Regions from separate parts of the Homo sapiens genome. Here region 2 is linked to region 1. The links come from fine-mapping of genetic effects on gene expression. A gene starts in region 1. The other region holds a variant in brackets. All regions are shown on one strand. Distances are from middle to middle. Region 1 holds the start of EBF1 (EBF transcription factor 1). Region 2 overlaps EBF1 (EBF transcription factor 1).

What was found. PIP is the estimated chance that this variant, and not a neighbour inherited with it, causes the effect. A credible set is the group of variants that fine-mapping cannot tell apart.
Region 2: its variant is the best candidate, but not a certain one, in a credible set for the expression of EBF1 in testis (GTEx, PIP 0.87).

The regions. Positions count from the first base shown.
Region 1 is chr5:159,097,969-159,102,356 of GRCh38, forward strand. EBF1 (EBF transcription factor 1) reads right to left here and starts at 1,948. Exons shown (of 16, transcript NM_024007.5): 1 at 1,377-1,948. The coding sequence starts at 1,510. It overlaps LINC02202 (long intergenic non-protein coding RNA 2202), which reads left to right and starts at 2,515. Exons shown (of 3, transcript NR_109890.1): 1 at 2,515-2,870. RefSeq lists enhancers at 1-478, 2,228-2,856, 2,857-3,483 and a silencer at 1,121-1,410.
Region 2 is chr5:158,919,164-158,923,551 of GRCh38, forward strand. The region is part of intron 6 of EBF1 (EBF transcription factor 1); the gene reads right to left. Among named protein-coding and RNA genes, the nearest start is that of EBF1, 180 kb to the right of the region's middle. The variant A/G (reference allele first, on the strand shown) is at 1,600.

The DNA.
Region 1 (4,388 bases):
CGCGCACACACTTTCACTTCCAGCCCAGTTACCCAATTCACTCTCACTACCACCCACCCCCATCCTAATACTCAGTGGGGATGGGAACAGTGTTGGGGACACTTGTCCCCAGCCCAGGGAAGCTGGAGATGATGTAATTAGTCATCTTCCTTCTTCCCCTTCCGCACTCTGAGTCCGATAGGGCCTGGGGCCACCAGATCTCCCACTGTCCCAAGCTCAGCTGGTGGCTTAATGGGGGGAAAAAGGCCATTTCTCACTTGGGACCAGGAGCCTGGGAAAGAGCCTTGGGTGTGCCCAGGAAAGTTCCCTCAGGTCAACCTCCAAGGGCAATGCCTCCAGGCCACACAGTCTAGTGTCTAGGGAGCTGCGAGTGAGAGAAGGGCTGGAAGGGGCCATGGTGACAGGGGCTGGAGAAGACTTTTGGGAGATATCAGAATTAAAGTTGGGAGTTGCTATTCTACCGGTAGACTAAGAAAAAACTGAAAGACAGAGAGGGAGGGAAGGAGAACGAGATAGCAGAAATAAGAGAAGACTCAGGGGAGAAATGGGACGAAAAAACAGGAAAGCCAGAGAGGTAAGGAAAGGAGAAAGAGGAGAAAGGAGGGAAGCTGAAGAAAGAAGAGAAAGAAAATGGAGAGAGGAAGGGAGGAAGGAAAAGAGTGAGGGAGAAATTAAGGGAAGGTGGGGGAAAGAAATGAGAGAAGGAAATGAAAGAAAGAAGAAAGAAAAGAAGGCAGGAAGAGAGACAGGAAAGAACGAAGAACGAAAGAAATGGAAGGAGGGAAGAGGGGAAGAAAGGAAGAGGAAGGAGAAGAGAAGAAAATAAAGGGGGGAGAAAGGAAAGAAGGAAGAAAGAAAAAAGAAAGGCAGGAAGAGGAAAGAGAAAGAAAAAGGAAAAAGAAAAGGAGGAAAGAAAAAAAGAAAGAAAAAGAAAAAAGAAAGAAAAAGGAAGGAAGGAAGAGAAAGAAAGAAAGAAAAAAGAAAAGAGGGAAAGGAAGAGCGAAGGGAAAGAAGAAAAGAGAGCCGGCCGGAAAAGAAAGAGCAATCACATAAAAACATAAAACACAGATCTCCAACATGCTGTGTTGAGACGCCTCTTCTGGGTTAAAACAAAATGAAAACAGTCACAGACGAGGCAGGGGAAAGTGCTGGCAAAGCGTGGGCTCCTCGCAGACAGCTCCAGGTCCTCCGGCCGCAGGCGACGAAGGCAGAGCGGCTGGAGAGCGCGGAGCCCCGGCGGAGAGCGGAGCGCAGCGGCTGCGGACTCACCCCGCCGCCCGGCCCCGCGGCAGCAGCTGCCGCTGCCGCTGCCGCCTCCGCCTCCCGGCTCTCCCGCTCGCGGCTCACCTCGGCCGCGGTCCCCGCGCAGTACCCACCTCTGCGCCGCCGTGTTGGCGTCCAGCACCCCGGCGCCCTGCATCCACGTCCGCACCGCGTTCATGCCGCTGCCCAGCGGCTCTTCCTTCATGCTGCTTCCACTCCGTTGGATGCTTTCCTGAATCCCAAACATGAAAACAACCTTTTCTTGTGGAAAATCTCCTCCCCCTTGAAAAAAATTAAAAAAAAAAAAAAAGGAAAGAAAAGAAAGAAAAGAAAAGAAACAAAAACGCCAACCAGAGATTTTTTTTTTTCTCAGACGATGAACTCGCACTTAGAAGATCAAGGCGGGCTGGAAAGCAAATTTTTAAAAAATGTAAACCTCTGCTCAAAACTGAGCGATAACCCGAAAAAAAGAAGAAAGGGAAAATCCAACGAAAAGACCAAAATAATAAAATTAGAGATGTATGCTTGGCTGTTGGGGGTTGTTTGGTTGGTTGATTTTTGGTTTGGGTGCTTTTTTTTTTTTTTTGCTTTTTTTTTTTTTTTTTTGTAATGATCACAGGCCGGTGGAGGACAGGAGGGGCTGGAGTTTCCTTTTGTAGAGGTACCCTTCACTTGAAGAAGCAGGAAGAAAAAAAAAAAAAAAAAAAAAAAAAAAAAAAAAAAACCCTGATGGCAATTTAAGAAACAATAGACTCAACTCGCGCTGCCGGCTTTGCTACTTCAAGTGTCATTTTCCACAACCAGGCAAGTTTTTTCCTCTCTCTCTCTTTTTTTTTCCTCCTTCTCTCCCAACCAAAGATGTTTCTTTCCTTTGCGTGTAGATGAGGAGGACGCTGGTTGCCGTAGACAGATACACCAGAGAGGGTGGGGGGAAGGGGAGAGAGGGAGAGAGGAAAGGGGGGGAGGGAAAGAGAGATAGAGAGGAGAGGGAGAAAGAGAGAGGGGTGGACCCTGCTGGATGGAGATTCTGTTTTCTCCTTGCTAAAATAGAAGTGATTTGCAGGCTTTCCCTATGGAATCCAGTTTGACTTTCCCCAGAGCTAAACACAGGCACACTAACCCCAAAGGGAGGAGGCGGGGCCCGCGCATCGAGGCCCCGCCCCTTCATTTGCATAACGTCATCTTTCCGCCCACCGCAGCCAATCGCGGCCCGGGAGCCGGCTCGCTGGCGGCGCCAGGCCACGCTCTCTCATTAACATCCCGCTCCCGGTGGCGCAGGGGAGCCGGCCAAAGTTCCTCGCAAAGTGGCGAGCGAAGGAGCGCTGAGCACTGACGTCTGGGCTGGGGAGGAGCGGGTCCGAGCGAGGACGGAGAGGGGACAGAGGGAAAGGGAGGCGGGTGTCTTCCTCAGGAATTTGAGCTGGGGATCTGCATCCTGGCCATTGCAGTCCTTTAGCATCCTCGCCGCGCCCTGAGCGCGCTGGAGGCTCGCAGGCTGCGCCCTCCCAGGGCTGATGCCGCGTCCTGCTCCGCCGTTCTGGGACGTCGGGGACAAAAGTGGAGGAGACGGGAGAGCCCGGGCAGAAAAAGCAGGACGCGCGTCCCAGGTGCCCACCTCTTCGCTTTGAGGCGGGGGCGGTGGGATGGAATATGGGTGCGCGAGGTCGGGGCTGGTAACTCTCGGAGGGGCACGGCCTCCACGCTGGGAGGGATGAATGGACGCTGGGCCCCGGCAAATGAGGCGCTGTGGGTCCCCAGGAAGTGGGGTACCAGGCTCTACTCCCACCCCGGCCTCTGAAACGCTTCTCTCTCGGCCGCTAGCCTAGAGGCTGCCAGGGTTGGGCACTGTTCTCACTCACACGCTCACCTCTCTCGGGCAGTCCTCGAGATATGTGAATGGTGGAATGAATGCTCTCACTGGGGCTGTGTCAGGATGCGTTTTTAAATTTTCTCAAATTAAATGCCAACCCCTCATTCCCCACCCCAAGTAGTTGGTTCGTTTGTTTTTAGAGTAACTACCAAAGCAACAGCAATGTTAACCGTCCTTGATTAGCTGGTTATTTGGTGTAGGGTTTTTCTCATCCTCCTTTATTCTTCCTGTTAAAAAGGAGGGCTTGAACAAATCCTTCCTAACTCTGTCTCTGCCATATGAAAAGGGTGGGGGGAGAAGAGAAGGAAGGTGGGGAGAAAGGACAAAAAAGGAAGAAGGGGAAGAGAAAATGGGAAGGAAGGAGGGAGAGAGAAAGGAGAGAAGGAGAAGGAACGAATGGAAATGGGAGAGATGGAAGGAAAAAGGGAAAGAAAAAAGGACGAAATTGTCTCCCTCCTCAGGCTTTTCAGCATGTATCTTTGTGGCTGGCAAAGGAAATAGCTAGAAGTTTCTGGGTAATGTACCCCATCATTTTTTAGCAGGTTGTAACCTCTAATAAGCACATGGTGAACTTCTGTTTCATTGCCCTCAAAGGAACTCCCTGACTGCAGCCAAATCTGCTAAGGACTCCTTCGGGGAAATTATCTGCCAGAAATCCAGGTCCCCTTTCTGCTGGCCTTCCTTGGTCCTTTGATTTAGGAAGCTCATGGGGTCAGTGATGGAAAAGTACACATGCCCATGTTGAATAGAGACAGGCAAGAGTTATGCTTTGTGCTCTTGGCAGAGCAGTGGAGCCACTTCCTGATTCCTAAACTGGATGAAAGAGTGTGGTCCTGGCCTGCAGTGCATGGCCACTGTCCTCAAACACTGCTTTATCTCCTGTGCACGAGGCCTGCCCAGCTCTCACACATGTAATCTAGACTTCTTGTGTGCTGAGCACTTTCCCCTGGTACCATAATTAATGCCATCTCTTCCAGGACTTCCCTGAAGGGATTGGTCTGATCTTTTGGGATCCCCATAGCATTCACAGGGGTTCCTAACATAGCGTTCATGTCGAAGAAGAGTATAATGGTGGAGAGACTTGAAGGGCTGTAGGTTTTTGGGGATAGGTATGTGAACATTTTCAGTCTCTATAGTATTTAAATGCACAATTGAAACTTGGCCTGCTAAAAACTTTCTAAAGCTCCAAACTTAACCTTATGCTCCAGGTCCAAAGGGGTCCCCAGAGTCAATCCCTCCCCCTGCCTGGGCCATA
Region 2 (4,388 bases), 180 kb before region 1:
TCCCAAAGAGCAAGAAACAAACCTGCTTTCATCAGCTGCTGGCATTTATGAGGGTCTTAGGATGAAATTAAGATTTTTTTTTTTTTTGAAATGGAAGTTTGGAATAATAACAACCTTGTAGGGGGAACATGGTACTCATGTTGCTTGGGTAACATGTGGTCTAAGTAGCCAGAGGAGAAAATCCCCGGAGAGGGTTATCTCATAGATAACACCAATCATATCTGAGAGGCCAGTGAGAACAATCTTGATGCCTGCAATATTTTAATCTATAACATGGGATGTCACCAAATAATGTGCTGGAAAACAACAGAGAAACATAAAGACACCAAATGAAAAAGCAGATCTCCCTTCAACTTTGAGAATGAGAAGTTACAAATCATCAATGTCTAGCAAAGACATATTCCAACAACGGTGCTCATTTTTTTGAATAAATAAACACCAGGGAACTAGCCTGGGAAACCTGAAACAGAACCACATCTTCTCTCAACTAAAGGCTTATTAACAGCATATGTGGGGACAAAGGATAGGAATATTCTGAGGGCAAGGAGAGTAAAGTTGCATTTATTGATCAAACTCCTACCAAATGCCAAGCACCATATGCATCGATTATCTCATTTAATCCTCTCAAAAAACACGACGGTACATATTATTATCCCAATTTACAGATAGGAATCTGAAGTTTATCAAGATTAAGCAACTTTCCAACTGAACAGGGCTTTAAAGACAGGACTCTAATTTCTAAGCTGTGTTTTTCTGCTATATGCATTGCCCATAGCCCCACAAAAGGACAGAAAGAAAAATCTAGAGGAAAAAAATCAGATCTCTGAAAACTGTCTATAAATTCCCCACAATAAAAATAACAATAACCATGATATCCTAGCACCTCTTTAGGTATATGTGTACATAACTTGCAACATATATATATGAGAAATTACAAATCATCAATATTTAGAAAGATGTATTCCAAAAAAGGTGCTCATTATATACATATGTGTGTGTGTGTGTGTATGTGTGTGTGTATACACACATATGCTTAATGTAATCTTCTTAACAATCCTATCAGGTATCATGATTGAGGTGAGGATGCTGAAGCTGAGTTAGGGACATGCTCAGGTTTACACAGCAACTAAATAACCAAACTGAGATCCAAACCCAGATTTGTCTGGTCCCCAAACCCCTGGACTTCCTATCATATTGTTCTACCTTTTCCATCCCTTTCAACTGGATGTGAAGGTGAACCAGAATCTGAAACTTCAGCTCTAAAGAGGCTGAAAAGAATATGTCGTTCCCTGCCCTCCAATACCTCTGCTTTGTACCTACTGGACACATGGCAGGCCTTGGTGGCCAGTGTCCACAGTAAAAGTTAGTGACTTGAAAGGCATGTGCAGCAGGCAATGCCAAGGGAACTTTTCTTTCTTCTTTTTTTTTTTAAAGAAACACAGTCTTGCTCTGTTGCCCAGCCTGGAGTGCAGTGGTGCAATCATAGCTCACTGCAGCCTGCAACTCCTGGGCTCAAATGATCCTCCCTTCTCAGCCTCCCAAGTAGCTGGGATTATAGGCATGAGCCACTGCACTTGGCTCCATTTTTTTTTAACAGGA[A/G]CTCTTGTGAGTCAATCACACCTCATAGATATGCTTGCCCCTTTTCCTTTTAGTGCAGGCTCTGGCACCAGCGTGACTCCCTGAAACCCACTTGGTGGAAGGGATGACAGCACTGGAGAGGATGCCATGAATATGGAAGTCCCTGTGTTTTAATTTGCCTAAAAATCTGCATGTTGTTAAAACAAATGTAGAAATTAGCCATATGGGAACCTAGCTTGGGTACATATCTTCATCTGTCACCACATTTGGGGGTGGAAATAGTACAGGATCATTTGCAGTGCTTAGACTTGTAGAGAGGGAGAAAAGTCCACTTGGAAGCAAGCTAATGCTGCACACGTTTATGCGTTTGACCTCACAATATGGTAACTAATGATGGTTCTGCAAATAGACTTAGGAAAATAGATGAATGATTACAGAGGGAAGAACCCAGCAAGGGTGATGAGCTTCGTTTCGCCTATGTTAGCCCTTAATCCTTAACAGGACAGCCAGCACAAATTCTATACAGCTTGCCTAAATAGATGAAATCTACACCTTATTCTGAATTCAAATCTTAGACCCAGTGCATATAATACACTGCCTTAATAGCTTTCCAAACTCTCATTTGGCCTCAGTTATACAACCAGCTGACACTGAAAATAATTAATGCCCTTTAGGACTCGCATCTGCTCCTATGGTTCCAAGTCAAGGTTTTTAATTGGGCTATTTTGGCATTTGGAGACAATGGCAAGGTGAAATAACCTTTCTTTAATATTTTTGAGGTCAGCAGATAGTCCTGCCAAAGGTCATCCTTCAGGTTCACAAATGAGTCATTTGTATCACCTAATGCAATCTGTGACTCGCAAATTGCACTGGGCTGTGTTAGCGTGCATTAATTAGTCCATGTGATGAATACTGAATTCATCATTACCAGCCGGAGCTTGTAGAGATGTACCAATACTTGTTTTGGCGGTTTGTGGTTGCTTATTTTTACTTTGCACTCCACTTCCAACCCTGGTCTGAGATCTTCAACACCGCAAGCCCAATAATTGGCACAGCAAAGTTAACCCTCTCCCTTATGACATGGCCAGAACCTGGGGAAAGATTCCCTGGCACAAACATATTGCAAAGCACGAAGCAACCACAGTTGCTCTATCTTTGGTTTATTGAACCTGTAAAACTCAGCATCAAAAGATGATTCCCTTTTGCCTCACGATCCATAGCATTCCTAATCTTCTAAAAGAGAGAGAGAGACAGAGACAGACAGCGAAAACTCCTGTTTCAAACACCTTGCTCAGAGCAGTGCTCTTAGTTGTGCTGGGTTCTCTCAGCTGCTTGGCAGCTACTGCCTATAATGAAGGCATTATTAATTTCAGTTTCAGGGGATAGAAAATCAGGATGTGGACACTGTATGGCTATACCATCTGTGCCGTTGACATATATTGATTCATACCTTCTTCCCATCTGTCCTTGACATTGTGCAGTAACAGAGGTCACAGTCTTCTCTTTCCTAGAATTCTCCCCAAAAGCAACTTTCTACCCAGTATCCTCTCAGTGATTTGATTTGGTTGCTATTGTGCACTTCTAAGGAAGCTGGTGGCAGAGTGTCTGCATCTGTCATCCCCCAGGTAAGTCCCTTTGACCCAACATAACAATAACCGACCACATCAAAAGGGTGTAGGAAAACAATAGTTCTTCCACTTTGCTGGAAGACAGAGTCAGCAAGGGGCAGACATTTAAAATAGATCTTCCATTTCTCCAGAATTTTGTGGATAACAAAGAGAATTAATGCATCACTCTAGAAATTAGCACATTCATTTTATACAGAAAGGTACAGTAGCCAATTAAATTACACACAGCAGATCTAAGGGTTGGAAAAGTAGATTTACGGAAAGTTAAGAAGCTGAAAAACAGCAGGTGGGTATGTCTTGCTCTACATTATGGACACTAAGAGAAAAATTAAGTCTCCAGTTACTGGGATATATGTGTGTCTTATGTTTAATGTGCATTTTTTGAAAAAAGAACTGTTCAGGTTATTGTCACTTCAGAATTGAGAAAGCCTGAGCCAGATTTCAGAGGGATTTTATTTCAAGGACTATCATTTATTTTATTTTACTCTTTTTTCTAACCACTCTCTGTCCAGGTGGAATGAGACACACAAATAACTGAATTCACAATGGACTTTTTGAGAATTCAAGTGGCCACTTGTATCTGCAAAGTAAGAAGTAAGTGGCTAATTGCAGCCGAAATGAATGGCTGAGCCTACAATTAGCCAATTAGGTGGTCTATTAGCAGGAGGGGCGATTTGAACGCAGAAAGCCCCTCCGTGGAGCCCGAAGGCCTTGGGGCTTTCCAGCAAAACCCAGGAAGAGCGTTAGCCTCTTCATCAAAGCAAAGCTAGACTGCTCAGAATCAGAGAACTGTCAGTTTATTCCTAAAGCTCTAAAATTCTCCAGGTCCAGGTGATAAGTAACACCCTTCCAATGGGGGTAAAATTTTTTTAAAGATTTTAACAGCTGCCTGAAAAGCTTCCTTTTCAAAGTATATCCCCAACCTTACTTTATCCATAAAAATCATCTCCTCCTCTCTCTCCTTCTCTTAAAATTACAGATTAAAACTTATCTGGCATTCTCATCCCATATTTAATGATGAAAATGAATCCATCTTTCAGTTATTCCTTAGAGAAAATATTGCCACTTTCAAAATATTTTAAGAAATTTTGCCTTATTATGGAGGGTGGGTCTCAGATCGCTCCATCAATTTTATTACAAAACAGGAAATTTAGTTTTGTTGAAGCCATGTAGCTCTGCTGA